Linked DNA regions of Homo sapiens. The protein of the gene in region 1 interacts with the protein of each later gene in a pairwise test. Each region holds a gene or a part of one and is shown on either strand. Other genes may lie near its edges. The genes, in order: LASP1, UFSP1, KRTAP4-2 and TJP2.

Region 1 (7,973 bases):
GTGGTCTGAGACTGGCCTCAGACTGTCTTTCCTCTCATAGCTTTGCTTCCTCACCAGTAAAATGAGGACAGCAAACCCAGTTGCCTCAAGCTGGGGGCTGGGCCTGATGCTTTGAGGCTTGGAAGGGCTGAGCCGGCCAGGCTGGAGCAGTGACGGGTTCTGGTTCCTGTGGCTGCCGTGGGGGCAGAGCTGGAGAGAGCTGCCTGCGGCTAGCAGGAAGGGAAGGGGGAGCCTCTTCTGCTCACCCAGCTTCACCCCACGGGGTCAGCTGGCTTCTCTCCATGCCCCTTCTGGGCCTGCCTTGCCCTTCCCTGTCTCTGGGAAGCTGCCCAGGCTATTTCAGCTTTATTTATTTTCCCATCTCTATATTGGTCTCCAAAATGGCACTTTGGGTGTCTGGGACACCTGGAGCCTCCCCTGTGGAGGAGGTAACCACAGAACTGTCCAGAAATGACCCTCTCGGTGGTCCTGCCCAGGCCTGGCTGAGGCAGGGGGCTGGCAGCTGGACCCCCAGCCCCCCTTCTCACTTGCTGCTCCTATCCCACCCCCAGGCTGAGCAGAGGCAGTGGCTTTGGGGTGGGACTGAGCTGGAGGTGTCTGTATGGCCCTGAGCCCAGGCAGAAGTGCCAAGTGCCAGTAGACTGTTCTTCCATTTTTTCCTTCATCAACTCACCTTGATGGGGTCATGGGAAATTACAGGGGGGTTTCTATCCTCCTCGGATCTTGTAAGCAGCACGGGTGGTAGAGTATCACTCTTACCCGAACTAGCTGGCCTGAGATTGAATCTCGCATCTGCTGCCACCAGCTGTGTGACCTTGGGCAAGTTGCTTAACCTCTGTGCACAGTGCCTTCGTCTGAATAATGTGGATTACCTCTCTCCAGAGGGTGGTGTGAGATAGGAGGATATGTTAAGCATTTAAAGATTCCTGACGTGGAGTCAGCATTCAGTGTTTGCTACTACTGTTCTCCCGGAAAGGAGAGGAAATGGAACTTGGACATGAAGAAGCTGGGAAATACACACAGCAACCTTTTGACCATGACTTCCAGCCCCGGCCCTTTCCATCAGCTCTCCTCTCCATCTGTGTGTGTCTAATTTTTTTTTTAAATTTGTATTTTTTTGAGACAGGGTCTCTCTCTGTCTCCCAGGCTGGAATGCAGTGGCGTGATCTTGGCTCATTGCAGCCTTGACTTCCCAGACTCAAGCGATTTTCTCGCCTCCACCTCCTGAATAGCTGGGACTACAGGCGTGCATCACCATGCCCGGCTAATTTTTGTATTTTTAGTAGAGACAGGGTTTCGTCATGTTGCCCAGGCTTGTTTCAAACTCCTGACCTCAAGTGATCTGCCCACCTCAGCCTCCCAAAGTGCTGGGATTACAGGTGTCAGCCACCGCGCCCTGCCTAAATTTTAAAAACTAGTGTTTCTTTTTTGTTAGAAGGGGATGGGTTACAAAGTATGTTGGCCCAACACATGGTAGGCACATAATAGTGGAAATTGTATTTCGCTCAATAAATTTTGTATTTTTTTAGAGATTTTTATTAATTTTTTTTTTTTTTAAATAGAGATGGGGTACTATGTTCCCAGGCTGGTCTCGAACTCCTGGGCTCGAGTGATCCACCTGTCTTGGCCTCCTAGACTGCTGGGATTACAGACATGAGCCATTTTGTTTTTTAAGTCCAGCCTAATTTTTGTGTTTTTTTTTTAGACGGAGTTTTACTCTGTCGCCCAGCCTGGAGTACAGTGTCACCATCTCAGCTCACTGCAACCTCCGGCTCCCAGGTTCAAGGAATTCTCCTGCCTCAGCCTCCCAAGTAGCTGGGATTACGCCCACCACGCCCGGCTAACTTTTTTTGTATTTTTTTTAGTAGAGATGGGGTTTCAGCATGTTAGGCTGGTCATGAACTCCTGACCTCAGGTGATCCACCCACCTCTGCCTCCCAAAGTGGTGGGATTACAGGCGTGAGCCACCGTGCCTGGCATAATTTTTGTTTTTAAGTAATGATCCTTCTTCTTATATTGGGTCATCAAGGCAGTTGTTTTCCCAATTATGCTGCTTTGTTTGGAGATTACGTGTCTGCATTCAATTCATTCATGATCCAACAAATGTTGATCTGCACCTCCTGTCTGCTGGGATGAGAAGCAAGATAGATCCAGGGAGAACAACTAAGAACTGACAGAAAAATTAGAGTTTCACGGATGGTGGTTGTTTGGGTGTCAGGAGCCTCAGATGTCAGTCAGTCCTGGGCCTGACAGCAGAGTTTCCAAAATGGGAGCCCAGGTATCTCCCAGGAGTGGGGTCCTCTGGGAGCCCAGGCATCTCCCAGAAGTGGGGTCCTCTGACCGAAGCGCTGAGTTGCATCCTGGCCTGAGCGACAACTGGGTTGTGACCTTGGGCAGGTCCCTTCCTCCACAGGGACCCCCACAGCACCCTGGTGAGCCATCCTAGACAACAGGGGCAAGCACTCCTGCCAGGGCAAGAAGGGAGCCCTGAAGAGGGGCTCTGGGCTGGGCCCTCCCTACACCCCTGGCCCCCCACCCTTCACTTCTGCCACCCCTTCCATACCCAAAGACCTTTCAAAGAGCCTCCCTGTCTTGATTATCCATAGTCAGGGTCTGAAGGTGCTTTAAAATGGTCACAGACTCCAAATGGGAGGGATTTTAGAGATCAGCTAGCCAGCTCCCTTCAGGGGACCCAGAGAGGGGAACTGACTTGCTTAGAAACACACAGCAAGGTGGTGCTGATCCCAGGCTCCCTCCCTTCTCAGCCCCTACCCCTCACCCCTACCCTCTGTGGGCCTCCTATGTTAGCAGTGAAATGAATGATCCTTCCCCAACAGGGAGGGGGAGGCAGAAGCAGTTCCCGATCCTGGGAACCTGCTGATGTCATTGCAGCGTCGCCATGGCGATTATTCCCCTGGATTAGGGGCCTGACCCTTGCAAAGCCAGGAAGCAGGGGACGGAGTGGGGGACTGGCACTCGTTCAGCACTTCATTGCTGACAGAGCACTTTCACACTGGCCCTCCACAGTGCGCTGCTGCTTTAGAGCCACTGTCTGTATCGTGGGTTGGAGTGACTGGCGTTATGGTCCCCATTTTACAGATGTGGGAACTGAGTCTTGAGATGTGAAGTCGTTGGCCCAAGATCACTCAGAAGTGGGAGACTGAGCCTGCGTTAGTGCTAGCTCCGCCTGGCTTTGTGCCCAGACTTGGTGATAAGAAGCCCCCTCCCCATATTATACCTGATTTCTGTCACAACTCTTTTACAGATGAAGAAACCGAGGCCAGGGGCTTGAGATGCAGGGCTTCTGTATCTGGAGCTACATTTCTCTGCCTCTGAGTGCCCTACCTTCCCCGATGCCCGCTTCCCAAAGGGCCTCCCACTAAGAGTCACCGTGCTGGCCCAGGGCTTCCAGGACTGAGGAAGAGCTGGTGCTAGGCAGGTTCTGGACTCTTGGGGTGGGTTGGTGCCTCTATCCACTGCATTCACTTCTGAACTAATGGGGAACAGCACATCCAAGCCCTTCTTGTCTGGATCAGAACAGAGAAGGAGAGGGAACCACATGGATGAGTGACTGGGGGCTTCAGGAGACAAACAAGGACTCTGACCCCCACAGGCATGTGCAGAGGACCTGACAGGTGTGGCCGTGGCTGCATGCGCATGCGCAGTCGCTCCAGTCCAAGCACAGCTCGGTGCTGCTGCCAGATGATTCCCTGCCAGGGAACTGCCTGGGTTTGTGTCCTGGGCTGACCTGTGTCCAGGACAGTGCAGCCCCCGTGGAGGAAATCCAAGCAGCTGGTGGGGTCTGGAACAGATGGCTGATGAGGTGGACAGTGAAGTCTCTGGAAGCCAAGGAATAGTTTCCTGTTCCATGAGTTTTCTCAGCCTCATTCTGTTCTTCAAAACCCTCAGGGGAGGACAAGCTGTTCCTCATATTTCAATTCCTTTCGTGCCAGGGAAGTCCTTTCTGATGTCTGACTTGAGTCCCTCTAGTACTGTGGTGGGGTGGAAGGGTTCTTCCCTGGAGCTTGGAGACCTGCTGAGATGCTGTCTGACCCCCGCTGCTTTCCTCCCCTCCTATGGCGGTGGCCTCTGAAGCCATCCCGGCAGGCTCCCAGAATCCGCGGGGCCTGTCAAAGGCGCACTGATGGAGCCTTCCCTGGGGCTGTCTCACCACCCTCCTTTCTGGGCACCAACTCTGTCCTTTGGCACAGCCCTCACTCAGCTGGTTGCTGAAAAGCTCCCCCAGGCGTAGTGGGCAGGGCCACATCCTGGCTAACATGAGGGCTGGGGCCACCCTGGGAGCCCTGGAAAGAACCTTTTTCCTATAAGCTTCCAGACAGGATGGGCAGGGAGTGAAGGGTCAAGAGTCAGGCAGATGAGGGTTTGCACTCTGGTAGTGCCGGACATTGACTGCTAAGCTCTGTGACCTTGGGCAGGGGACTTTGCCTTTCTGTGGCTCCGTTTCCTGATCCGTAAATTGGAGCTGTTAATTGCGTGGCTATATGTATGGTGGGATCTAAATGAGATGGTTCATGTAAGGCCCTGGACTCTGTGCCTGCCATTCACTGTGCACCAAAGACTTGGTAGTGGCTTATTATTACGAGTCTAACACCTTTTGGCTGAGGCCTCTGCTTTGAGTTGGGGACTTCTGATCAGGGTCTTTCTGCTGACTCCCTGTCCCTGTCTCCTGACTGGTTGCTGCCTCAGAGGGGCCCCAAGCCGAGGCCCTTTCGGCTCCTGGCCTGACTCCAATCCCTCTTCCTCCCCTCCTGCAGGTGCGCTACAAGGAGGAGTTTGAGAAGAACAAGGGCAAAGGTTTCAGCGTAGTGGCAGACACGCCCGAGCTCCAGAGAATCAAGAAGACCCAGGACCAGATCAGTAACGTGAGCTCTTGCCCTGCCCTGCGGCATCCCTGCTGCCCTCTGTTTGGTCCCCTTCCTGCCAGCCTGGCAGACGCAAGCCTGGCAGATGTGAATGAGGCCAGTGCCTCCACTACCCCTGCCCTCCAGGGTGGGCCTGGGGAAGAGCTTGGGGTTCCCAGATGCCTCTTCTCTGTGTACCCCCAGACCACCAGCACGCATAGCATTTTCTTCTTGAAGGGACTGTATTCTGTGGGGGCCTGTGTGCTAAATCAGCCCCCACTCTCTCTGACTGTTGTTCTTTTTTCTGGATATCGTGGGTATCGGTGAAGACTGCATGTCTCATCTTAGCACAAAGGTCAAAACTGGGGGGCGGGGAGCACCTGGCCTCCCCTGGTCTGCGCCTGGGTGCTGACATTGCAGTCATTTCCGCCCTTCCTTGGCCTCCTCCCCCACATCAGCCTGCTCTTCCTTCCTGTGTAAAAACCCCAGCCAGCTTCACCCGCCAGCCCTGCACCCCCTGGCTCACACCCCCCGCCTCCCTGATGGTCAGTGGCATCTGGCTGTGGCAGGGGTGGGCATGGAGAGTGGGCAGGGGATCAACTGTCCCCAGCATCGTGTGCCCTCCATGGCACCTGTGGCCAGAGAACAGGCCTCAGTTTCCTGCTTGGCAGAGCCACAGGCAAGCAGCCTGTGTGGCTTTAGGCATGCGGGGGCAGGGCACTGCGGTGAGCAGCAACCATGGGGGATGCGCACACAGAACTGCAGGGGCTGCCCAGCCAGCCTGGCCTAGGAGGTCCTGCCAGGGAGGGTTTAGGCAGGCAGCTGTCTTCGTGTCTGGAACAGGAAGGGATCAGTGAGCTGCCCATTGTTGCTCTGGGCTGAGGAACTGGGGATAGAGATTGCCGGGGGAGCCTGGCTTTCCGGTGGTCTCAGCACCCACTCCCTGGGCTCCACATCCCTTCCTACCCTCCACCTGGCCACCTCAGCAGGGCGCTCCTTTAAGAGCTTGGCTGGGCCGTGCATAGAGTGGGCTGCAGTGGTGGGTCAGGTGGATTTCAGAAGCACAGGCAGCCCACAGACAGCAGAACCAGCCATGCCCAAAATGGTGGCTTTCAAACTCTGACTTCAGCCTACAGTAAAATATACATTGTACGTCTTGACCCATCTGACAGGCATACATTTATGTAGAGGGAAAACAGAATGGAAGCTTTCATGAATGAGTACTTCCTACTTAGAGGGCGTTCAGATCTTTTTTTTTTTTTTTGAGACAGAGTCTCACTCTGTTGCTCAGGCTGGAGTGCAGTGGTGCTCCGCCTCCAGGGTTCAAGTGATTCTCCTGCCTTAGCCTCCCAAGTGGAGTAGCTGGGATTACAGGTGCACACCACCACCCCCGGCCAATTTTTGTATTTTTGGTAGAGACAGGGTTTCACCATGTTGGCCAGGCTGGTCTTGAACACCTGACCTCAGGTGATGTGCCCGCCTTGGCCTCCCAAAGTGCTAAGATTACAGGTGTGAGCCACCGCACCCGGCCACATTCAGATCTTTTCTAAAGATGCTGGTTGCAGGCCCCTATACACCCTCACATAATACAGCCCCTTTGAGGACTGTATTCCCAACACTTTGGGAGACTGAGGTGGGAGGATTGCTTGAGCCCAGGAGTTTGAGACTAGCCTGGGCAACATAGCAAAACTGTTTCTACAAAAAAAAAAAAAAAAAAAAAAAAATACAAAAACTAGCCAGGCATGATAGCACACGCCTGTGGTCCTAGCTATTCAGGAGGCTGAAGTGGGAGGATCACCTGAGCCCAGAGGTTTGAGGTTATAGTGAGCCGTAATTGCACCACTGCATTCCAGCCTGGGAAACCGAGTGAGACCCTGTTTCCAAAAAAAAAAAGGACCAGGCGCGGTGGCTCATGCCTGTAATCCCAGCACTTTGAGAGGCTGAGGTGGGCGGATCATGAGGTCAAGAGATCGAGACCATCCTGGCCAACATGGTGAAACCCCATCTCTACTAAAAATACAAAAATTAGCTGGGCGTGGTGGCGTGTGCCTGTAATCCCAGCTACTTGGGAGGCTGAGACAGAAGAACCGCTTGAACTCGGGAGGCAGAGGTTGCAGTGAGTCGAGATCGGGCCACTGCACTCCAGCCTGGCGACAGAGCAAGACTCCATCTCAAAAAAAAACCAAAAAGATGCTGGTTGCAGACTTACTGTGAATGGGTTTTGCAACTGGACTGTTGACCTGCAGTTTGAAGTTGGTGGCCTGAGGAAATGGCATGCTTCCCTTTGGCTAGCAGGGGATGCCTAGGGCGGGCACTCTAATCCTCCTTCCCCTCCAACTTCCAGAGGCCTGTCACAGTTGACTCTTTATATGCTAGGGCCTGGCCTCACGCCCTGGAGCTTCCCTTTGGCTCAGACCCTGCAAAGGGTAAGACCCTTAGGTCTGTGTTTCAGAGCTCTCGGCTTGGAAAGTGGGGGAGGGGGAAGATGGTCTTAGATTATGGGGAAAACCCGGAATGGTTCACAGAACTGGAATGTCGGCTCTTCAGCCTCTGCGGCTTTTCATGTAGAGGCTCTAGTCTTTTATCAGTGACACTTGCTCCCAATGTGCAACCCCAGCTCCCTGGCTGTTCACTCATTGCTTCACCCTGTGGGTTTTGGAGGAGGGGAGACAAGCCCAGTCATCCCTGCTTCCCTTTCTGGAAGGCTTCCAGAACACTCCACACTCAGCCTAAGCCACCTCCTCTTCTTCCCTCCCCCAGTTAGAGGTGTTAATATCCTAGTGACAAAACTCACCACCCTGGCCAAGCCATCCGCATCTCAGGAGATAACCATCTTTTACCCTTCTCGCGGTGCTGCAGTGAGCTAATGGTCCTCTGCAGGAGCTGGGGGAAGGGATCGACCCCGACCTGCTAGCTGCTTTTGCAGCTTTAGCAGAGACCTGTAGGGTGTGAATGCAAAGCCTGGAGACTCTTGGTTTTAATGAAAGCAATTACAGTCTGTCGGATATGGGCCTCCAGACAGCTGTAGCACAGTCACCTGTAGGGTTGACTGAAAATGCAGACTCACAGGCCTTCTCCCCTGGCTGCCAGAATCAGCGTCTCTGGGAGTGG
Region 2 (7,257 bases), on another chromosome or scaffold:
GGGTGCTCCTCTCTGTTCCCTGCATTTGTCTGGATATGGGTGTCTGCCTGATCTCTTTCCCCTCCTGCCCGCTGGCCTGTGTCCTTGTCTCTGCCTGTCTCCTTCCCTCCCTCCCTCTCTCCCCTCATCTTTGCCAACCTGCCCCACCTCCTCTGCAGCTGAGCGATAACCCTTGGGCCGACAGTGCCCTAATCTCCTCCCTCCTGGCTTCTCGACCGACCCTTCACCCTTTCCCTTTCTTTCTCCCAGCAGACGCCGCCTGCCCTGCAGCCATGAGGCCCCCGCAGTGTCTGCTGCACACGCCTTCCCTGGCTTCCCCACTCCTTCTCCTCCTCCTCTGGCTCCTGGGTGGAGGAGTGGGGGCTGAGGGCCGGGAGGATGCAGAGCTGCTGGTGACGGTGCGTGGGGGCCGGCTGCGGGGCATTCGCCTGAAGACCCCCGGGGGCCCTGTCTCTGCTTTCCTGGGCATCCCCTTTGCGGAGCCACCCATGGGACCCCGTCGCTTTCTGCCACCGGAGCCCAAGCAGCCTTGGTCAGGGGTGGTAGACGCTACAACCTTCCAGAGTGTCTGCTACCAATATGTGGACACCCTATACCCAGGTTTTGAGGGCACCGAGATGTGGAACCCCAACCGTGAGCTGAGCGAGGACTGCCTGTACCTCAACGTGTGGACACCATACCCCCGGCCTACATCCCCCACCCCTGTCCTCGTCTGGATCTATGGGGGTGGCTTCTACAGTGGGGCCTCCTCCTTGGACGTGTACGATGGCCGCTTCTTGGTACAGGCCGAGAGGACTGTGCTGGTGTCCATGAACTACCGGGTGGGAGCCTTTGGCTTCCTGGCCCTGCCGGGGAGCCGAGAGGCCCCGGGCAATGTGGGTCTCCTGGATCAGAGGCTGGCCCTGCAGTGGGTGCAGGAGAACGTGGCAGCCTTCGGGGGTGACCCGACATCAGTGACGCTGTTTGGGGAGAGCGCGGGAGCCGCCTCGGTGGGCATGCACCTGCTGTCCCCGCCCAGCCGGGGCCTGTTCCACAGGGCCGTGCTGCAGAGCGGTGCCCCCAATGGACCCTGGGCCACGGTGGGCATGGGAGAGGCCCGTCGCAGGGCCACGCAGCTGGCCCACCTTGTGGGCTGTCCTCCAGGCGGCACTGGTGGGAATGACACAGAGCTGGTAGCCTGCCTTCGGACACGACCAGCGCAGGTCCTGGTGAACCACGAATGGCACGTGCTGCCTCAAGAAAGCGTCTTCCGGTTCTCCTTCGTGCCTGTGGTAGATGGAGACTTCCTCAGTGACACCCCAGAGGCCCTCATCAACGCGGGAGACTTCCACGGCCTGCAGGTAACTAGTGGCTAGCTGGCGTGAAGCTGGCTCCTCTGGGTCCCAACGGTCCCTCCCCTCCCTGCAGGGACCCAGGCATGAGGGCTTCTCCAGGCCCATTCCCAGAAGTCCCAGAAGTCCTCCCTGAGGGCTCAGATCCCAGGGTGGTCAGCAGGGCAGACAGGAAAGCCACCATGGGTCTATTTTCTCTTTCTCTGCATCCCTCCCCTGATCTCGTCCTCTCTCTGTCCATGGTTCCGGGTCTGTAACTGTTCATCTCTCTGGCTCTTTGTCTGTCCATCTGTTTCTGTCTACTTGTCTGTCTGTGCCTGTCGCTCCATCCCACCCCCCTCTCCCTCACCCCCAGGTGCTGGTGGGTGTGGTGAAGGATGAGGGCTCGTATTTTCTGGTTTACGGGGCCCCAGGCTTCAGCAAAGACAACGAGTCTCTCATCAGCCGGGCCGAGTTCCTGGCCGGGGTGCGGGTCGGGGTTCCCCAGGTAAGTGACCTGGCAGCCGAGGCTGTGGTCCTGCATTACACAGACTGGCTGCATCCCGAGGACCCGGCACGCCTGAGGGAGGCCCTGAGCGATGTGGTGGGCGACCACAATGTCGTGTGCCCCGTGGCCCAGCTGGCTGGGCGACTGGCTGCCCAGGGTGCCCGGGTCTACGCCTACGTCTTTGAACACCGTGCTTCCACGCTCTCCTGGCCCCTGTGGATGGGGGTGCCCCACGGCTACGAGATCGAGTTCATCTTTGGGATCCCCCTGGACCCCTCTCGAAACTACACGGCAGAGGAGAAAATCTTCGCCCAGCGACTGATGCGATACTGGGCCAACTTTGCCCGCACAGGGTCAGCAGTGCAGAGGGAGAGAAGGCTGGGGAGGACAGGAGTCGGGGGCGGGAGGACACACAAAGGCAGACACACGGAGACAGAAAGGACGGGTGGGACAGGGGCAGGATAGAACAGCCAGAGAGGGATATGCTCACAAAGTAGATAAAAGGGGAGAGAAAAAGAAAGGAGACAGAGAAGGCAGAGGGGGTCTTGCAGAGACAGAGGCAAAGGAAAGTGAGGAGGAGACGAGGTAGACATGGAGGGGGCGGGGCACAGTGGCTCACCCCTGTAATTCCAGCCCTTTGGGAGGCCAAGGTGGGAGGATCCCCTGAGGCCAGGAGTTTGAGACCAGACTGGACAACATAACAAGACCCCGACTCTTAAAAAGAAAAAAAATACAAAACTTAGCCAGGCACGGTGGCTCGTGCCTCTAGTCCCAGCTACTTGGGAAGGTGAGGCAGGAGGATTGCTTGAGCCTGGGAGGTTGAGGCTGCAGTGAGCTATGATGGCACCACTGCACTCCAGCCTGAGTGGCCCTATCTCTGGAAAAAAAAAAAAAAAAAAAAAAGGGAGACCAAGACAAAGGAGTTGGAGCTGGATTAAGTCAAACCAGTGATGATTCACTAGCAGTGACACATTCTCTCACACACACACCAGTTTACCTGGATCGAGAAGAGGACAATGAAATCTAGCATTGGATGGGTGTTGTTAAAAAATGTGATGTTTGTAGACATAGGACCCGTCCTGGTTATTTAGGAAAGTCTCAAGACATCCTAGCCATTTTTTTAGTGAGAGAAACAAAGATGGAACAGAAAAGCTGAGGGAAACGGAAGGAGACGGAGCGCTTGAGGAAGGGAAGACCCCAATGACCGCGCACATTGGAGAAAGTGGTGGGAGGGAGGGGACGGGTTCTCTGGGGCTCTCCGCTGAGCTGAAGAGTCCGGGATCCCGTGGAGTTGGGGGCCACCTCCTCCCACTGCCCGTCTGGACTGAGCCTTCCCTTCCTTCCGCAGGGATCCCAATGAGCCCCGAGACCCCAAGGCCCCACAATGGCCCCCGTACACGGCGGGGGCTCAGCAGTACGTTAGTCTGGACCTGCGGCCGCTGGAGGTGCGGCGGGGGCTGCGCGCCCAGGCCTGCGCCTTCTGGAACCGCTTCCTCCCCAAATTGCTCAGCGCCACCGGTATGCAGGGGCCAGCGGGCAGCGGCTGGGAGGAGGGGAGTGGGAGCCCGCCAGGTGTAACCCCTCTCTTCTCCCCCTAGCCTCGGAGGCTCCCAGCACCTGCCCAGGCTTCACCCATGGGGAGGCTGCTCCGAGGCCCGGCCTCCCCCTGCCCCTCCTCCTCCTCCACCAGCTTCTCCTCCTCTTCCTCTCCCACCTCCGGCGGCTGTGAACACGGCCTCTTCCCCTACGGCCACAGGGGCCCCTCCTCTAATGAGTGGTCGGACCGTGGGGAAGGGCCCCACTCAGGGATCTCAGACCTAGTGCTCCCTTCCTCCTCAAACCGAGAGACTCACACTGGACAGGGCAGGAGGAGGGGGCCGTGCCTCCCACCCTTCTCAGGGACCCCCACGCCTTTGTTGTTTGAATGGAAATGGAAAAGCCAGTATTCTTTTATAAAATTATCTTTTGGAACCTGAGCCTGACATTGGGGGGAAGTGGGAGGCCCCGGACGGGGTAGCACCCCCCATTGGGGCTATAACGGTCAACCATTTCTGTCTCTTCTTTTTCCCCCAACCTCCCCCTCCTGTCCCCTCTGTTCCCGTCTTCCGGTCATTCTTTTCTCCTCCTCTCTCCTTCCTGCTGTCCTTCTCCGGCCCCGCCTCTGCCCTCATCCTCCCTCTCGTCTTTCGCACATTCTCCTGATCCTCTTGCCACCGTCCCACGTGGTCGCCTGCATTTCTCCGTGCGTCCTCCCTGCACTCATACCCCCCCTTCAACCCGCCCAAATGTCCGATCCCCGACCTTCCTCGTGCCGTCCTCCCCTCCCGCCTCGCTGGGCGCCCTGGCCGCAGACACGCTCGACGAGGCGGAGCGCCAGTGGAAGGCCGAGTTCCACCGCTGGAGCTCCTACATGGTGCACTGGAAGAACCAGTTCGACCACTACAGCAAGCAGGATCGCTGCTCAGACCTGTGACCCCGGCGGGACCCCCATGTCCTCCGCTCCGCCCGGCCCCCTAGCTGTATATACTATTTATTTCAGGGCTGGGCTATAACACAGACGAGCCCCAGACTCTGCCCATCCCCACCCCACCCCGACGTCCCCCGGGGCTCCCGGTCCTCTGCATGTCTCAGGCTGAGCTCCCTCCCCCGCGGTGCCTTCGCCCCTCTGGGCTGCCAATAAACTGTTACAGCCACGGGAGTGTGCGCGACTAGGGAGCCAGGGGTAGAGGCAGAACGCCGGAATCACGGGGGCCGAGTCTATGCAGGAGCGGGGCTGGAGGGCAAGAAACAGGCGAGCTCCGAGGCGGGCGCAAGGCAAAGGCCAACCCCTAGCCCTGCCCTGCCGGGCGGAGCTCGCGCCTGCGTAATGAGGCCCGCAGGCAGGCTAGCTGGCACGGCGGAGGGGAGGAGAGGGGAGGGGAGGGGAGGGGAGGGGAGGGGAGGGGCGGGGCGGGGCGGGGCGCGGCGGAGCATTGTGGGAGCTCCTCGGTCGGTGCCGGTCGGTGGCTGCCTATTGCGGCCTGCGGTGATCAACGAGGCCCGGGGAGCGCGTCCCCAGTCTGCGCGCCGGTCCTGCGGCAGCTGGCCCAAGACCCGGAGCCGAAAGGAAGTGTTGGAGCCTGAGGTCGCTCCGCGCCGCTAGGAGGACGCTGTGCCTGGCCTGGGACCTCCGCTCCCGCCCACCGCCCTGGAGCCGCTGAGGGACGTCCACGTGGGCCTGTCCCCGCCGAGCCGCGGCCCTGTCCGCCTGGCGCTGCTCTCGGGCCACTACCTCTACTACCACTACGGCTGCGACGGCCTGGACGACCGCGGCTGGGGCTGCGGCTACCGCACTCTGCAGACGCTGTGCTCGTGGCCAGAGGGCCAGCCCGCGGGCGTACCTGGACTGGCCGCCGTACAGGCGGCCCTGGAGGACATGGGCGACAAGCCCCCCGGCTTCCGGGGCTCCCGGGACTGGATCGGCTGCGTGGAGGCCAGCCTCTGCCTCGCTCACTTCGGAGGGCCCCAGGGACGCCTCTGCCACGTACCCCGGGGAGTGGGGCTGCACGGGGAGCTGGAGAGGCTTTACTCGCACTTCGCAGGGGGTGGGGGCCCAGTCATGGTTGGGGGGGACGCAGATGCCAGGTCCAAGGCCTTGCTGGGAGTCTGCGTAGGGTCAGGCACGGAAGCCTATGTCCTGGTATTGGACCCTCACTACTGGGGCACTCCAAAAAGCCCCAGTGAACTACAGGCTGCTGGGTGGGTGGGCTGGCAAGAGGTGAGTGCAGCCTTTGACCCCAACTCCTTCTACAACCTGTGCTTGACCAGCCTTAGCTCCCAACAGCAGCAGCGCACCTTGGACTGAGGACGAAGTTACAGAACTGAGATTCTCGGGTCCCAGACACGCACCTATGTACCTCCCACTGGTGTCCCTGCAAAGCCTGGCGCTTTTGACATCAATAATAAAAGTGGCAGGGCTGAGCAACACCTCAGGAGTTACTCTGGAAGGATGGAGGAGTTATGTAACACACGAGAGTCAGGAGCCCTGTGGAAGTGCTTTTATTAGCAGTAAGGCTGATCGTACAAAAAATTCTCAGAGCTTCATAGGACAAGGTAGTACAAGTATGGATGATACAGGACTGAGGAACGGGGGACGGCTCAAAAGAAATCAACATCGTCTGGGGCATCCAGGTCCCGATATTCCACAATGGCCCTTGGGTCTCCACGAACCATCCTGTGAGGTGAGAGGTACAGGATGAGAGCTGAGGGCTCCCAAAAGGGAGTCTGCAGGCGGCAACAAAGCTTGGGCGTCTGCCCTCCTCACCTGTTGCGAGGTTTCCCAGGATAACCTCCCTGGCCTCGGAAGGCATCATAGTTCCCTCGACCAGCACCATACGGGGCATGGGGGTATGGAGGGCCTCCTGTGGGGACTGCAGGGCGGACAGCACCAGCTATGACAGAGATCAGTGTTGAGTTGCAAAACTATGTCCTCAATTCCATCCTCTGTTTTCTTCTCCCAAAGCCACACACTCACCAAGCCCCTTCATCTCCCTCCTGTACTTACCTCCATAGCCCAAGATCGGGGGCCGGGGCTGACCATAGGGCATCAGGCCCTGGGGAGTCTGGTGTGGGTAGGGGAGTCCTGGGGTCAAACCTGGGGGGAGTACAACACGGACAGGGACATGAATTACTGCGGGGGCGGGGAGGGGGATACGGGTACAATTGACTTCTAGGGCTATGGCCTGAGGATGGGGCAGAAACTTCTCGGGGTGACACGTTAAAGAGAAACAGGAGTCCCTGGGTAGTCAAGGAAGAGGGCACATGCGACCTTCATGGATCGTATCTTACTCTGGGCGGGGCCAGGTGGCTGGGCTGGCTTGATCTCAGGCAGAGCTGGGCGCTTAGCATCAGTGAGGAAGTTGTTAAAAAACGCGACTTCCTTTTTCACTTCCTCAATTTTCTCTGCATGCTTGTTGAAGATATGTTTGCGCACAAACTCAGGACCCTGGGTGGAGAGAGGAGAGGGGTCAGGACAGCCACATAAGGGTTGCCTCGCTCCCAGGCCCGAGCTGGAAGGATTCCCAGCTCCCGCCTGCCAGTGCAGTAAGCAGTTCCCCCACCCCTGCCCAGGGGGCTTCCTGTCTCAACCCCACCTCCCACCACCGTAGCACGGCCATTCTCCAACATCCCACACCTTGAATTTCTTGCCACTGAGAGGACACAGCCACTTATCCTTGCCCAGTTCCTGCGTGTTGGAGGTGACGAACTTCTCCACTTCCTGCTCTGGGTCTTTGCGCCCCATCTTCTGGGCCTCTTCCTCTGAGAGTGACTCCCGCACACTCAGCAACGGCGTGAGCTTCTCCTCAAAAGTCTTCTGCCACTCCAGCACTGTGGTTTGGGAACAGAGGAAGGAAGGTTGGCAAGGGAGCCAGAAGGAAGGATGGTGGCAAGGGGCTGGAG
Region 3 (6,254 bases), 2.3 Mb from region 1:
CATGACAAGTGAATGTTTTACCCAAGGCAGCCTAGCTCCAAGGCAGCCATCTGGTTGTTTCCTCTGCTCTTTAGCAACTACTTTCCCTTTTGGAAGTTCAAACTTATCACAGTTTCTCATGTCTTTGAGATAATTTCCATTCCATAACCAAATAATATCAATAGGCCCAAGAGTTAAGGACTTTAGTTAGAAGCAAAATTTAGACAAGGACGAAGAAGAAAATGGCAAAAATTAAAGTACATTATCATATCAGTAGAGCAATATAACATTAGTGTCATAAAGAAAGTCACATTCTTTTTTTTTTTTTTTTGAGATGGAGTCTCACTGTGTCGCCCAGGCTGGAGTGCAGTGGCGCGATCTTGGCTCACTGAAATCTCTGCCTCCCGGGTTCACGCCATTCTCCTGCCTCAGCCTCCTGAGTAGCTGGGACTACAGGCACCCACCACCGTGCCCGGCTAAATTTTTGTATTTTTAGTAGAGACAGGGTTTCACCGTGTTAGCCAGGATGGTCTCGATCTCCTGACCTCATGATCCACCTGCCTCGGGCTCCCAAAGTGCTGGGATTACAGGCATGAGCCACCATGCCCGGCCAAGGCTTTTAAGAGTTTCTTAACCAACCTTCTATTTTCTTTCTGGATGAAAGAGTTCTAATATTTTATTCTTTCTTGTAAGGGTATCGCTCTATTCTTATGAGAATCTAAATACACTTTTCTGGGTAAACATTAGCTTATGTCTCAGTTAAATTTTGAAATGAACATAGGCACAAAACAGGCAAGATGTGTTGCCAGAAGTATAAAAATGCAGGTTGTATTTATTCCTGTGGCCTATCTAATTATGGCTAATATTTGGAGGACTTTGGTGCATTCAGCACTAACCTAGTAATATGGTTGTTGGGAAAAATAATTTTTGAAGAGTTTATATCACTGTTTTAAGTCATAATTTAGGTTAGACAGAAATGTCTTTCGGGTATTTGTGGCTGGGTATTTTATTTTGAATTGCTTCTCTCCTAGGAGGAGCATGTAGGGAAAATTACTATATCTTATAGGATCCATACTCTTAAAAATGGGATTTTACATGACTGAACCTGAGGACAATTACAAATTTTAAAAGATAAGCATGAACATGGATGGGAGGGATAAAGGATAACAATGAGTCATCAAGTAAAAGGGAATCAAAAAAAAGTCATAAATGTATAGGTTTGTAAACTGGAAGTCACGTTAGAGATATCTAACCCAGAGATTTTCAAACAGTGAAGTTTGCCATTGAGTAGAGCCCAGAAATTGACTTAAAAGTCTATACATGGCTCACTCCTGTAATCCCAGCATTTTGGGAGGCAGAGGCAGGTGGATCACGAGGTCAGGAGATCGAGACCATCCTGGCTAACACGGTGAAACACTATCTCTACTAAAAATACAAAAAATTAGCCAGGCATGGTGGCGGGCACCTGTAGTCCCAGCTACTCAGGAGGCTGAGGCAGGAGAATGGCGTGAACTGGGGAGGCAGAGCTTGCAGTGAGCCAAGATAGCGCCACTGCACTCTGGCCTGGGCGAAAGAGCGAGACTCCATCTCAAAAAAAAAAAGTCTATACAAATTAATTATATCCTAAAGCTGGTGTCTTAAAAGCAGTATGGAAAGGATTACTTCAAATATACTATAAAACAGGTAGCCAAATTCAGGAATAAACGAAGGAAAGGGAAAAAAGCAAGAAAGAATAAAAGGGATTAATGAAAGATGTACAGAATGAAGAAAAAAAGGAGAGATTTTCATTTGTTAAATCAAAACAAATTTCATCCAGATAAAATATTCAACATAAAAATGAAACCGTTCAGTGGCCACACCTAACCGTGGATCCCAGCCAGTAGCCACAGCTGCACAAAAGCCCAGGCAGCAGCCCCACTGAACCTCAGGGCCTGGGCAGGAGTTTTACCCACCCAGAGACCCCCAAGAGTAAGCCCTGCCTGTTCACAAATGCTACCAGCTTCCCCGTCCAGAATCCCAGGCCGAGTTGACTGCTGAGAGTCTTTCCCTGCTGAAGGGAACTTGTAAAGTGTGGAAGAGGAGACTGTGTCCTCAAAGGCACAAACACCAATGTAAGATTGCAAGGATTTTACACACACACACACACACACACTGAAATGTTATTAGCCATGAAATGAAGAAAATCCTGTCATTTGGGACAACATGGATGGACTTTGAGGACATTATGCTAAGTGAAGTAGGTCAGACAATGAAAGACAAATAATCTCATTTACATGTGGAATCTAAAAACTCATAGAAACAGAGGGTAGAATGGTGATTGTCAAAGGTTGTGGATGGAGGAAATGAGGAAATGTTGGTCAAAGGGAGAAAATATTCATTTATAAGAAGAATAGGTTCTGAGGATCTAATGTACAGCATGGTCACTGTAGTTAATTACACTGTATTGTATATTTAAAATTTGCTGAAAGACTAGATCTAAAATGTTCTCACTACACACACTCAAAAAATGGTAACTATGTGAAGTGGTGGAGGTGAACTAATTTGATCATGACAATAATTTCACAATATATACATATCAGAGCATCAGGGTGTACACCTTATATACATACAATTTTATATTTCAATTATAGCTGAGTAGAGGTAGAAAAAATGAAATTGTTAAAGTACTAGAAGAAATCGTGAGAGATTCCTAAATATAATGTAAATTTATCTTAAGGAAAACACACACACACACACACACACTCACACACACTCACATCATGAAGAAAAATAGTTAATATAAAGTGATCTCTACTGAATCATCAGCAGGCACCAATCGTCACGGCTTCTCAAGGGCACGATTCTTTTCCAGAATACAAGGTCTCCTGGAAATCTTAGAGTTGTTCTCGTACACCACCATGGGGCTCACAGGGTCTTAATTCCACAGCATCATGGAACCCACTTTCATCCCTCAATAAAATATGATGTCTGGGTACATCAGAGCCAGAGAACAGTGCAGGCTCAGAACACCAGCCAGCGCACCAAGCAGGGGTTCACTTGGGAGCCCAAGTTGTTTTCATTCTGCTTGAATCACCTGGAAATTAGGGCCAGGGCAGGAGTAGGAACTGGCTTGGAACATAGCAGCATCATAAGAACACCACAATTTGATTTATTAGACTTATAAGCACCTGAGAGAAGAAAGGGAATCTCCCTCATTCATCCAATCCCCTCCATCTGGTTCTTGGATCTCCCTCAGAAACACCAGCTTACACTGAAACTCCTCCCCTGATTATCTGCAGAGGCTGCCCAGTTCATAAAACATTTCTATCATGGTAAGTCAGACATTTTTCCACCCCCTTCCCTGGGTTCCTTGACTCCTCAGGGGTGGGGAAATACATATATATTTATTAACTGATGAGTTAATGAATTGACAACATAGCACATTTTTGAAACAATAGTCAGCCATCCCTACATGAAAAAATATAGGCTGATATCCTTTGTTCTTGATACCTGTTTTCTGCTTTCTTTCTCTCTTTATTGATTTATTTTTTGAAAACAAAGATGTAAAGTGTGAAATTGGATCAACAACTTCTATAAGGAAGCAGCAGAGTATAGGACATCTTCAAGGCCCAGCAATTCAGCAGAGAAAGCAAGAGGGCTGGGAGCGAATTAGAGCAAGCAAAGGATACTGAGTCATCTAATTTGGGTTGGCCAGAAAATTTTGGAACCTGGAGAGATGAGCTCATGTGCCCTGTTAGAGCTAGGAAGGCAGAAAGGCAAAGTCACAAGGAAAATCTGCCCCAGGGAGCAAAAAAATGAGGGACTTGGACCTTTAAGTATAGCTGTTCTCTGAAGCCAACATTCCCCAAGAGGCCCTGAATCTGAATTTTGGAGGGTTGTTTCTGTAGAAAAGGAAACATCAAACTTTCACAGCTTAGTTTTCCACCTTAAAACAGCTCTGTATTTCTCATCAGAAGGTCTAGAAAATGGGTCACAATTCAGAGTGCGGAAGATAAAAAAGCGATAGGTCCTACGGTGTTCTCGTTCTCACACCAGTGGTCATCTGTTTCACACTGAAATCTGTTTCACACTGAAACCTTCACAGGCCATCTGACCCATAATGAAGGAGCCATCAGACTGAAATGCAGCTTTATCCTCCTGAGTCACCAGAAAGAGTCAAGGGCCTGTAAGAATAGTAATCACCCAAGAGTAGTCATGATGTGTTAAGCAAATGAGACTGAAGCACATAGTATGTGCTTACAGGCAGATGTCACATGGCTGCTCTAGGAGGAAGCTATAGTAAGAGAGACACAGGAGGTGGTTCAGGAAGAGCTGAGCTAAGGAGTCCTAACACATTAGGGAAAGGAGACAGTGTTTCCATCTATGTGGATAAGTTAACCAGAACAACAAACTTGCCTAATTTGATAATTGCCTACATATCAGGACAAATAATAACAAGGAAAGAGTGTTGCATCTGATGACATCAGGCCTTAGCAGGGTATAAAAGAGGATCTGGGGCAAGGAAACTTCCAAACCTTCCAAACCCACCTTCCTGGAAATCCACCCAGAACCTCCACCCTCTGACACCATGGTCAACTCCTGTTGTGGCTCTGTGTGCTCTGACCAGGGCTGTGGCCTAGAGAACTGCTGCCGTCCCAGCTGCTGCCAGACCACCTGCTGCAGGACCACCTGCTGCCGCCCCAGCTGCTGTGTGTCCAGCTGCTGCAGACCGCAGTGCTGCCAGTCTGTGTGCTGCCAGCCCACCTGCTGCAGCCCCAGCTGCTGCCAGACCACTTGCTGCAGGACCACCTGCTGCCGTCCCAGCTGCTGTGTGTCCAGCTGCTTCAGACCCCAGTGCTGCCAGTCTGTGTACTGCCAGCCCACCTGCTGCCGCCCCAGCTGTGGCCAGACCACCTGCTGCAGGACCACCTGCTACCGCCCCAGCTGCTGTGTGTCCACCTGCTGCCGCCCAACCTGCTCTAGTGGCTCTTGCTGCTGATGCCCTCACCTATACTCACCTGCCTTTATTAACCAGCATTCTTGATATGATCCACCTGTGAACTGAATCATGCAAGGCCAATTGGACAACCTCAGTTCCAACCAATTCTTGGATTGAGTTTGGCCTCCAAATATGCTCACCAAACACTATGTTGCTACCCTCTACCAAATGAATACAAGTTTGAATTTTCTCTGAAATATGTCAACCCCATGTTCCCTGAATTGAAATATTTGCTCTCTACCATAATTTATCACATGGAGCTATTCCTCTATCTTAAATAAATTTTAATTTTTGAGGCATACAAATAATATACGGGCATTGTGTCTCATTTTTCCTTCTTGAATTCTCATCCTTACCTGTCAAATTTTCTGATGTTCTTCCCTGCAGAGGGAGAAGACCACAGCAGATGATATCAGGGGCTCCACCTCTATCCTATCAGCACTCTCCATTCAAACATAGGAAAATGGTTCCTTAGAGCAGGCACCTGGAACTCTCTACCTGAGGACTTTCTCTGGATAAAGGAGCAAACTCTGGGCTGGAGACTTAAAGCCTCTAGGAACAGCACTCAGAGAATGAGTGGGAGTTGGTAATATATGCCCTGGCTTGTTTCCCTCCAGTGGGGGGTATGTCAAACCAGTCTTCCAGAGGTCTTCAGCGGGATTTATACCAGATGCCTGCAGGAACATTCTGATCATGAACTCACTCTATAATGACTTTCCCTCCTTCCCAGGGTCATTCTTCAAGTTTCCTCCAGTGTTTCTTGGGTTAATCGTCCAAATATACCACATGTTCTCAGATCCTCTTTTGTGGGTTTGCCCCAGAGAGCACACAATCTAAAACAGCAGCATTCCTAATCTCAGTATTAGTGTCCTTCAAAATGTTTTTGTACAATATGAATGGTTACCATAGATTTTGATCAACTCTTGAGTTTACTGTCACCTGAATGGACACCTCTGAACATTTTGCTGTTTTTTTTCTTTTCAATTTTTGCGCATTACAATTTTTTTCTATTATTTGTTCATTTACTTTTTTGGTCTTCTTTTAAGAATTTTAATTTTTAAAGTTTTTATTTCAATATGCATGTTTGCTTTTAAACTAGTTGTCTTTGATTGTTTTTTTCTTCACATCGTTTTATCTGAGGGATAGGACACAACCACCGTGTTGGTGATTCTCATCCTAAAAAAGGCTATATTGAAAAAGGTTTCACCCTGAGCCATGCTGCTAAGTTGGAGGCACCAAAGAAAGATCTAAAACAGGATGTTTGCACAAGTGACTTTTATAAGAAAATGCTCTCAGG
Region 4 (7,973 bases), on another chromosome or scaffold:
GGGCTTCAAGCTATTGAGCACTTATAGCCAAACTATCAAGTATAGTTATGATATAGACAGTCCAAATTTATGGAAAATATTACAAAGACAAATGCCTTGAAAAGATGACACAGTGCAGGGAAAACTACAGCTATTAAGCTGGTATAAAAACTTAGTCAAAATGTTTTAGTCCATTATGGCTCTGCCTAAAGCTTCAAAGGAAGAAAATTTAAGACACTTCTCATCCAAGGCACTTAAAAGAGTTGCAATAAAGTACTTCTTTGAATTTAGTTTGAGCCCAACAGTATTTTTTATTCCTTTTTCACATTCTGACTCACACTGAAACAGTCCTTGAAGGCAGCTATTAATGAGGAAAAATAGTTATTGCTTCTTAATATACATATTACAAGTACGCAAACAGAATACAGATTTCGGTCCACTGAAGCAAGTAACAGGATCTGACTGCAGTGTTCTGCTTAATTCTGAACAAAAAGCCACAGACTCCTCTAACCCAGTCCCACAAACAGAGCCCTCAGTTCTGAATTTGCACCAGCTGTCCCCTGGGTTCTCCATGAGGACACACGAGCTGGAGTCCCACCACGTCTCCATGGTGCATTCTAACTGGAGAAGAACCATCCCGGCGGCCTGGCAGGAGTGGCTAGTCTGATGCCATGCAGGCAGGCCTGGGAGAGTCCGTGCTCAGACATCTATAATTCTGTGTCCCGGTATCGGGCAGACTGGCCATAGTAACCGCGCTTGGAGTGTTCTGACAGCTGCTGGCGGTACTCCTCCTCCTCGGCATCACTGCCATAACTTCCTCTGGTATCCTGATAAGGTCTGGAAGGAGCTTTCTGTGGCTCAGGGGGTCTGGAACTAACAAAAAAAGGGTGTTAAAGACATTCCAGAGCACATCCATGTCCTCCGGCTGCCCGGGGAGGCATGGCTCTGAGCACAGTGACTGGGTATCCCGAGCAGATCACTTACCTCTGAGCCACATTCTGCAGAGCAACCAGGGCATCCCTGGTCCTGCTCCAGGTTCGTAATAGGTCAAATCCAATGCCCACTTCGGCGGTGAGTGAGGAAGCCAGCCAGGTGCTCCCTGACCTAAGAATCTCCCTGTTGGACAGGGGGTGCCCTCCTTACCCCTAAGCTCCCTGGCTAGTCTCACCCAGCAGCGAGGTCTCTGCCAGTTTCAGTCCATCATAACCAAGAACTCTTTGTTGCCAGAGGCAACCTGGTTGACTGTGTTACCACTCAGCTGGTAAAGAAGAAATTTGTTTCCAGTTTTCTATCACTGGAAAACTAGACTTCAGCTTCCAGTCAGAATGGCCACAAGAGGCTGGGTACAGTGGTTCACACCTGTAATCCTAGCACTTTGGGAGGCCGAGGCGGGCGGAGGTCAGGAGTTTGAGACCAGCCTGGCCAACATGGTGAAACCCTGTCTCTATTAAAAATACAAAAACTAGCTGGATATGGTGGCACACACCTGTAATCCCAGCTACCCGGGAGGCTGAGGCACGAGAATCGCTTGAACCTGAGAGACGGAGGTTGCAGTGAGCTGAGATTGCACCAGTGCACTTCAGCCTGGGCGACAGTCACTCTGTCTCCAAAAAAAACAAAAGAATGGCCACAAGAAAATGTGACTTTTTTTTTTCTATTCTCGGAAGCAGGAAGCAATCCAGTATAAAACTTCAACAGGAAGACACTGTGAACATTCCTACTGTTTGTGTGGCATTTACCAAGACTGCTCATTTGCTTGTCACGGTCCCTTTAGACCCCAGGGCAGCACAAGCGGTCTGACTTTGCTGGATGATGCAAAGGAATTAAGAAGTTTGGCTGAGAGTCAGCAAACAAGACAAAACAGGTCTAAGCCGTAGGAATTCTGCTCATGTGCTAACCATGTGCAATGTAACATAACCAGGCTCCAATGTGTCAAATGTACTGGCTGGAAACATCAATGATTACACTTTGTCAGAGTTTTAGCACACAAGCAAACTATGCTTAAGTTTTGACTCTGTAATCTTTACAATTAAATTTGATGGAATGAGTAAGGCAAACAGTCAATCTGTGGGGAAAAAATCCTCCTGTTACTCTGAAATTTGGGTAAAGGAAATTCTTTCTTCAAGTCCCAGTCCTTGAGAAGTCCCCGCCTTAGACCTGTACCCACTAGGCAGCCCTTACCTCGTGTGCTGGGGCGTGCCAGGGTCTGGCTTGTGCGTTTTGATTGGAACTGCATAGATATCAGGATGCTTCTGGGCAATTTCGATCTGTGGTAATTAAAAAAGAAAAGAATAAGAGTGAAAGAATGAACCACTGGGCACTCTGCTTGCTGGTTTCCTGCTGGTCCCACCCTTTCCCCATATCCTACTTATTTTCCCATCCCATTTCAAGAAGAGGAAACACAGAAGCGGCCTCCTCATTTCCATGGTTATGTGCGGTACACGTCAGACAGGAAAACTATTTAAAAGGAATGAAACTCTGACACATGCTACAACCTGGATGAACCTTGAGGACATCATGCTAAGGGAAATAAGCCAATCACAAAAAGACAAATAGTGTATGATTCTACTTATAGGAGGTTCCTACACTGTCCAATTCACAAAAAACAGAAAGTAAAGGAGTGGGTGCCAGGGACTGCGGGGAGAGGAGAGTGGTGAGTTAGTATTTTATGGGTACGGAGTTTCACGTGGGAAGGATAAAAAAGTTTTGGGGATGGATGGTGGTGATGGCTGAACAGCAATGTGAAGGTACTTAATGCCGCTGAACCGAACGTTTTAAAATGGTTGAGGCTGGGTGCAGTGACTCATGATTGTAATCCTAGCACTTTGGGAGGCTGAGGAGGGTGCATTGCTTGAGCCCAGGAGTTCGAGACCAGCCTAGCAACATGACAAAACCTTGTCTCTTCAAAAAATACGAAAAATTAGCTGGGTGCAGTGGCATGTGCCTGTGGTTACAGCTATTCAGGAGGCTGAGGTGGGAGTATCTCCTGAGCCTGAGAGGTGGAGGCTGCTGCGAGCTGTGATCACACTGCTACACTCCAGCCGGGGTGACAGAGGGAGACCCTGTCTCAAAACAAAACAAAACAAAACAAAATAAATAAAAGAAAAAAGTGGTTGAAATGGTAAATTTTATGTTATGTATATTTTACGACAAGAAAAGAAAAATGCTCAGATGTACTGCTGCTGTTGTGCTAGACCTGAAAGAAAACTCCCACATCTACTGGGCAAATATACTCCACAGACCTTTAGTTAAATTCTTCTTTGTTTGAAAAGTTCTATGTGCATATGGTATACAAATTCAAACAGCTCAAAAAGTACAATCTATGGGCCTTTCTGTTTTAGCACCCAGTTTGCTTGGTTTCTACGGCAAATCTGGGAGCCAATGAAGACACGTTTAAGAAAAAAAAATCACATTCTAATTAAAACGACTTCCGAGAGGCACTGATTCCCTCCTCACACTTCCTCATTCCAGAACTCTATACAAAGTTCTGTGTATAAAGAGCAGAATCTTCTTCCCCTATATTGTCAAGTTTTCTTCTTTGGAAGAACAAGGGACGTGCTGGGAGCTGGCAATCTGAAGTGACATACACAGCACCTGCCTTTGGTGCAGTGCATCCCTGCCACATCTGCAGCAGCAGCAAAGGGGCTGTTCGCTGTTATGTTGAAATCAAACTTATTTAAAACTCTTATTGATGATGTGTAGTTTAAAAACAATTACCCTTGCATTCTGTGCTTCCTGGAGCTCCTGCATTCTCTGTAACCTGGCCTTGTGATCCATCTTCTCAAATATTTTGACTTTGCCCAGGACTGATTTGGGAGCATTATCTTGCTCCTCACTGCTCTCTCCCACCTCCTCACCCTCTTGAGGAGGGATGGGAGTGGAGGGCTTCAGTATAGACCGCCCAAAGGTAGGTTTTGCTGCAACAGGAGGAGGATAACCTTTGGTAGATGCCCCAGGAGTTTCATTACCAGCAACGGCAGAGGGGTTTGACTTATATTCATAGGATTTGGAGAAGTCATAGGATTCTTCTTTGTTCTGGGTTTTGGCCTGCGGAGAGCAATGACACGTTTTCACCCTGGGCTTTTAAGTTTATTTTCAAATCTATATTAGTGATTTAATACACTCCATTTCCTGATCAGTTTCCAAAGGTGGTCCACAAATACCATTCTGACAAGGAATGTAATACAGCAGGGCAAACAGCCACTGGCCAGGCTTCCTGAGCCCTACCTCCCTTCCTATACTAGTCTATTAGGAATGTCAGGAAGCCAAAAAGGAATAGGGAAAGTGCTGGGAGGGCTGTGATTGCTGGAGGTAAGATCAGACCTGGAATAATTTTGTTCTAGAGGAGATCAGCATCTTGGAGAAGATCTCAGAACAATTCAGGCTTTGGGACTCGAAGAGTGGGCTTCTGAGGTCACTGCTGCACTGAGGGTACATGAGCCGGCCCAGGTGAGACCCATGTCCAGCTGAGGAATGAGACTGGGGTGGGGAGCGAGGAGAGCACTGCTTCACGCTAACAGCCACTTTTCCTTCACACTTCCAGTCTTGCCCGGCTTGCAAATTTTCGCTGATGTATTTTATGAGGTCACTTATTATTACTTAGTACCTATCACATTTACTACTTCTGATGGCTCACACAATCAATTATGGCTTTCTTCTCATCTAAATTATTGAGTTAGGCTGGGCGCAGTGGCTCACGCCTGTAATCCCAGCACTGTGGGAGGCCGAAGTGGGTGGATCACCTGAGGCCAGGAGTTCGAGACCAGCCTGGCCAACATGTCGAAACCCCATCTCTACTAAAAATACAAAAATTAGCTGAATATAGTGGTGCACACCTCTAAGTCCCAGCTACTCGGGAGGCTGAGGCAGGAGAATCACTTGAACCCAGGAGGTGGAGGTTGCAGTGAGCCGAGATTGCACCACTGCACTCCAGCCTGGGCAACAGAGTGAGACTCTGTCTCAAAAAATAGTAATAATAAATAATAAATTATTGAGTTAAATAGGTTTTATTCTGGTATAAGGAAAAACATAGAGTCACAGCTCTGATTCTGACTAAAGGTAAATAATCTTTTGATATAAGCCCTTGTGTCTTTATATTGATTCTGCTCTGGATAATGATTTATTAAACAAATAAGCAGCTCTCTTAATGAGAGGCATTGTAAGCAGTGGTGATGATTATTCTCTTTAGCACATCACCAGTAAGAATTATCTGGTGCATCTAAATCAGACTGGGCAGAAAACTTTAGCTGGACAGCAAAAGAAAAACACGTTCTGCGATTGGTGATTCTGGGTATACAGTACAGTATTTTTCAATCTTTTTCTTTACAATCTTTTTTTAACAAGAAGAGTAAATTAAATAAACACTAACAGTCCTAAAATCATATGCTCTCCTAATATTGCCTTTCCTTCCTTTTTGCCCTTCCCTAATTTGGGAGTTCACCCAACAGGCCAAAAGATAGGCTCTAATAGAGAACACAGTGAGTCAGAACCGTAATTAAACACCATCTCAGTGTGCATGCTCCTCCCTGGCCGTCCAGGAGGCTTCAGAGGCATCTGCTTCCTCTTCCTTCCCATCCTGGGCTTCCCAGCCACGTACCTTGGGCGGCTCTGGCTTGAATGCTGGGGGCGGGCTATTGTCCCTAAGTTGATCGCTGCTAGCAGCCCTCCTCATCTGAGCTCGTGGCTCTGGGCTGGGTTTCCTTATGCTCTACAAGACATAAAGGTTCATTCACAACAAGAACATCCAAGCAGAGAGAACAGAGCACTCGACTGCTTTGGAGGAGTTCTGCAAACTTGAGTAAGTCCAGAAGTTGAGGTTCTGAGCCGGTGCTTCTTTACTGAACAGGCAGAAACCATCACCAAATGCTTCAGACACATTTTTAAAAACTGGCTGCATCCAATGTAGAGTCTCTTCCTTTAAAGCACAATTTTTTAAGAACCCTCCAAAAGTCTAAAATCTCTTGTGTCACTAATATCCATGTCTATAGGCATTTGGAAGTTAATTTATTCTTTACAAGTTGTCTAGCATAAACTAATTTGTTGCTGTGGTAATGGTGTATTTTTCTCCCCCTTCAGTTTGTTGTTGTTGAACTTTTTTTTTTTTTTTTTTTTGGTAGTTCTATTTCATAAAGAAAAAAATCATTTACTGGAATGAGCTAAAATGCTAGAGAGAAATCCACAGCAATAATTATCCAAATATATGAACAATCCCATCTTCAAAGATCATTATTCCAACATTCTCTGAGGTGCAACTAATAATTGCTAACTTGGCTGTGACTTTACAGTGCCTGTCAATGTGATTTCAAGGATCCCATAAGCTATCTAATCACAGTGGATGCACAGTACATGTGATGTGATCAGATGAAGGTTTGATCATGAACTCAATTAAAAAACTGAAATATAAGAGAGAAGGAAACTGATGGGGAAACACTCAAGAGCTTTGGCAAGATTAGAAAGGTTAAAGGCAGGATGGGGAAGAAAAGCAAGGACATCTAAGAGTACAGAGAGAAACCTAATCAAAGGTTACAAGTACATACAACAATACTGCATGGGAAGGAAGGTTCCGCTGGTAATTTGGACAGACGGCACCTAAAGCCATTCTGTTTATCCATCGCACCTGAGGGCATGGGTGTGCGGAGTGCTGACCCCTCAAGCTCTTCTGAAGTCCACCTGCCTGCCCCACTTTCCCACAGACTGCAACCATGCCAGCGTGGACTCAAAGCGAGAGACTCCCTGGAAGTCATCTGCTCCAACCCTTAGGAATGCCTTCCACAGCACCCTGAACACACAGCTGTCCACGAGAGTGCAAGGAAAACACCAGGCTCTCCTGTTCCTGCCCGTGGCCTGCCTCGCCTCACCTCCTCGTGCTGCACCGGCTCCGAGGAGCGGGTGATGGACGACACCAGCGGCTCCTCGGCTGGCTCATCCAGCTCATTGTCAGTGTAGGCGCCTCCTTCACCGTCCGTGTCTTCAAAGTCACTGATGAGGCGGCTGTCGCAACTCAGATAGTCCGCGCCCATGGCGGTTAAGTAGGACATGCGGTCTTCGGGGTCATCATCCATCCCTTCCATCTAGAGGAATTTGTGTTGGACGGTCAGTGGGGTCTGATGTGGCTCCTGGGAGTGGGGACTCAAGAAAATTCCCAAGGACACAGCCAAGCGACTGAAACCTTGATGTGCTCGCCAGGGAAGGCATCTTTTATTTTTCTCCCTGAGATCACTTGGCTTTGGTACAATGTTGATATTATGGTCGTTTTTGTGCAGGAACTCAAATTAGGGGCCCTGCAGCCTATCTGTGCTACCATCCATCCTCCATACCGCGGCTAAGCCACACTTTCTCAGTCTGTCTTGCTTTTCTTCTGAATCCAGCTCCTCTGCAGCCTGTTCTCCTGGTACCACTCTCCTAGTAATATCAACACATTGCACGCTGCCTTGTGCTACACTCACATCCATGCCTCTACAAGATTCTCAGACCCTCAAAGGCAGAAGCTATGTCCTGTTCAACCTGTCCTCCCCAGGGAAGCTTGCATCCCCCTTCCAAACTGGAAGCACTCCATAGATGCCAGATACTTTGACTACACATCTAGTTCTCAAAGAGCAAAACTTAGTCAATTCTGCAACAAAATAGTCACTGTCAAGTCTCACAAAACTACCTCAGTTCAGCTGGTGAACAGGATACTAACACCAAAAGCTTCTAAAATAAAAGCGGCCACAGGTAATAGAATCTCCCTCTCTCCTCCCTGCAGCACAGCTGTGTGTGAGCTATCTCCCCGAGGGAGAAGCGATCCAATTCTAGAGGCCTAGACAAATTCCCTAACGTTCTCATATCACCCATTCAAACTCCCAGAACGATGGCACATTCTCAACCAACCTTATTTTCTAAGTAATTCTAACTCCATTAGCTTTTCTTTTTATTAATGTTTAGCCGTATTCTCCAAGTTGCTCAACCTCACCTCTCATCTGCACTCTAAGTTTCCCACGTCCTTAGTAAGCTGT

Evidence for each region.
Region 2: the proteins of LASP1 (region 1) and UFSP1 interact in binary tests that used the Homo sapiens proteins (3 or more experiments, as listed by UniProt).
Region 3: the proteins of LASP1 (region 1) and KRTAP4-2 interact in binary tests that used the Homo sapiens proteins (3 or more experiments, as listed by UniProt).
Region 4: the proteins of LASP1 (region 1) and TJP2 interact in binary tests that used the Homo sapiens proteins (3 or more experiments, as listed by UniProt).

What each region holds. Positions count from the first base shown.
Region 1 is NC_000017.11:38,893,637-38,901,609, forward strand, and holds part of LASP1 (LIM and SH3 domain protein 1), read left to right. Parts: intron 1-3,265; exon of another isoform or gene 3,266-3,435; intron 3,436-4,775; coding exon 4,776-4,883; intron 4,884-7,973. UniProt on the Homo sapiens protein: Plays an important role in the regulation of dynamic actin-based, cytoskeletal activities.
Region 2 is NC_000007.14:100,887,248-100,894,504, reverse strand, and holds UFSP1 (ufm1-specific protease 1), read left to right. Parts: upstream 1-4,789; 5' UTR 4,790-5,005; coding exon 5,006-5,662; 3' UTR 5,663-5,784; downstream 5,785-7,257. Other genes in the region: ACHE (acetylcholinesterase), read left to right, coding at 250-1,340, 1,687-2,171, 3,167-3,336, 4,170-4,291; SRRT (serrate RNA effector molecule homolog), read right to left, coding at 5,956-6,031, 6,122-6,248, 6,362-6,463, 6,646-6,802, 6,992-7,185.
Region 3 is NC_000017.11:41,176,457-41,182,710, reverse strand, and holds KRTAP4-2 (keratin-associated protein 4-2), read left to right. Parts: upstream 1-4,489; 5' UTR 4,490-4,546; coding exon 4,547-4,957; 3' UTR 4,958-5,265; downstream 5,266-6,254. UniProt on the Homo sapiens protein: In the hair cortex, hair keratin intermediate filaments are embedded in an interfilamentous matrix, consisting of hair keratin-associated proteins (KRTAP), which are essential for the formation of a rigid and resistant hair shaft through their extensive disulfide bond cross-linking with abundant cysteine residues of hair keratins.
Region 4 is NC_000009.12:69,247,088-69,255,060, reverse strand, and holds part of TJP2 (tight junction protein 2), read right to left. Parts: intron 7,050-7,973; coding exon 6,837-7,049; intron 5,687-6,836; coding exon 5,576-5,686; intron 4,027-5,575; coding exon 3,697-4,026; intron 2,247-3,696; coding exon 2,161-2,246; intron 853-2,160; coding exon 687-852; 3' UTR 1-686. UniProt on the Homo sapiens protein: Plays a role in tight junctions and adherens junctions. Acts as a positive regulator of RANKL-induced osteoclast differentiation, potentially via mediating downstream transcriptional activity.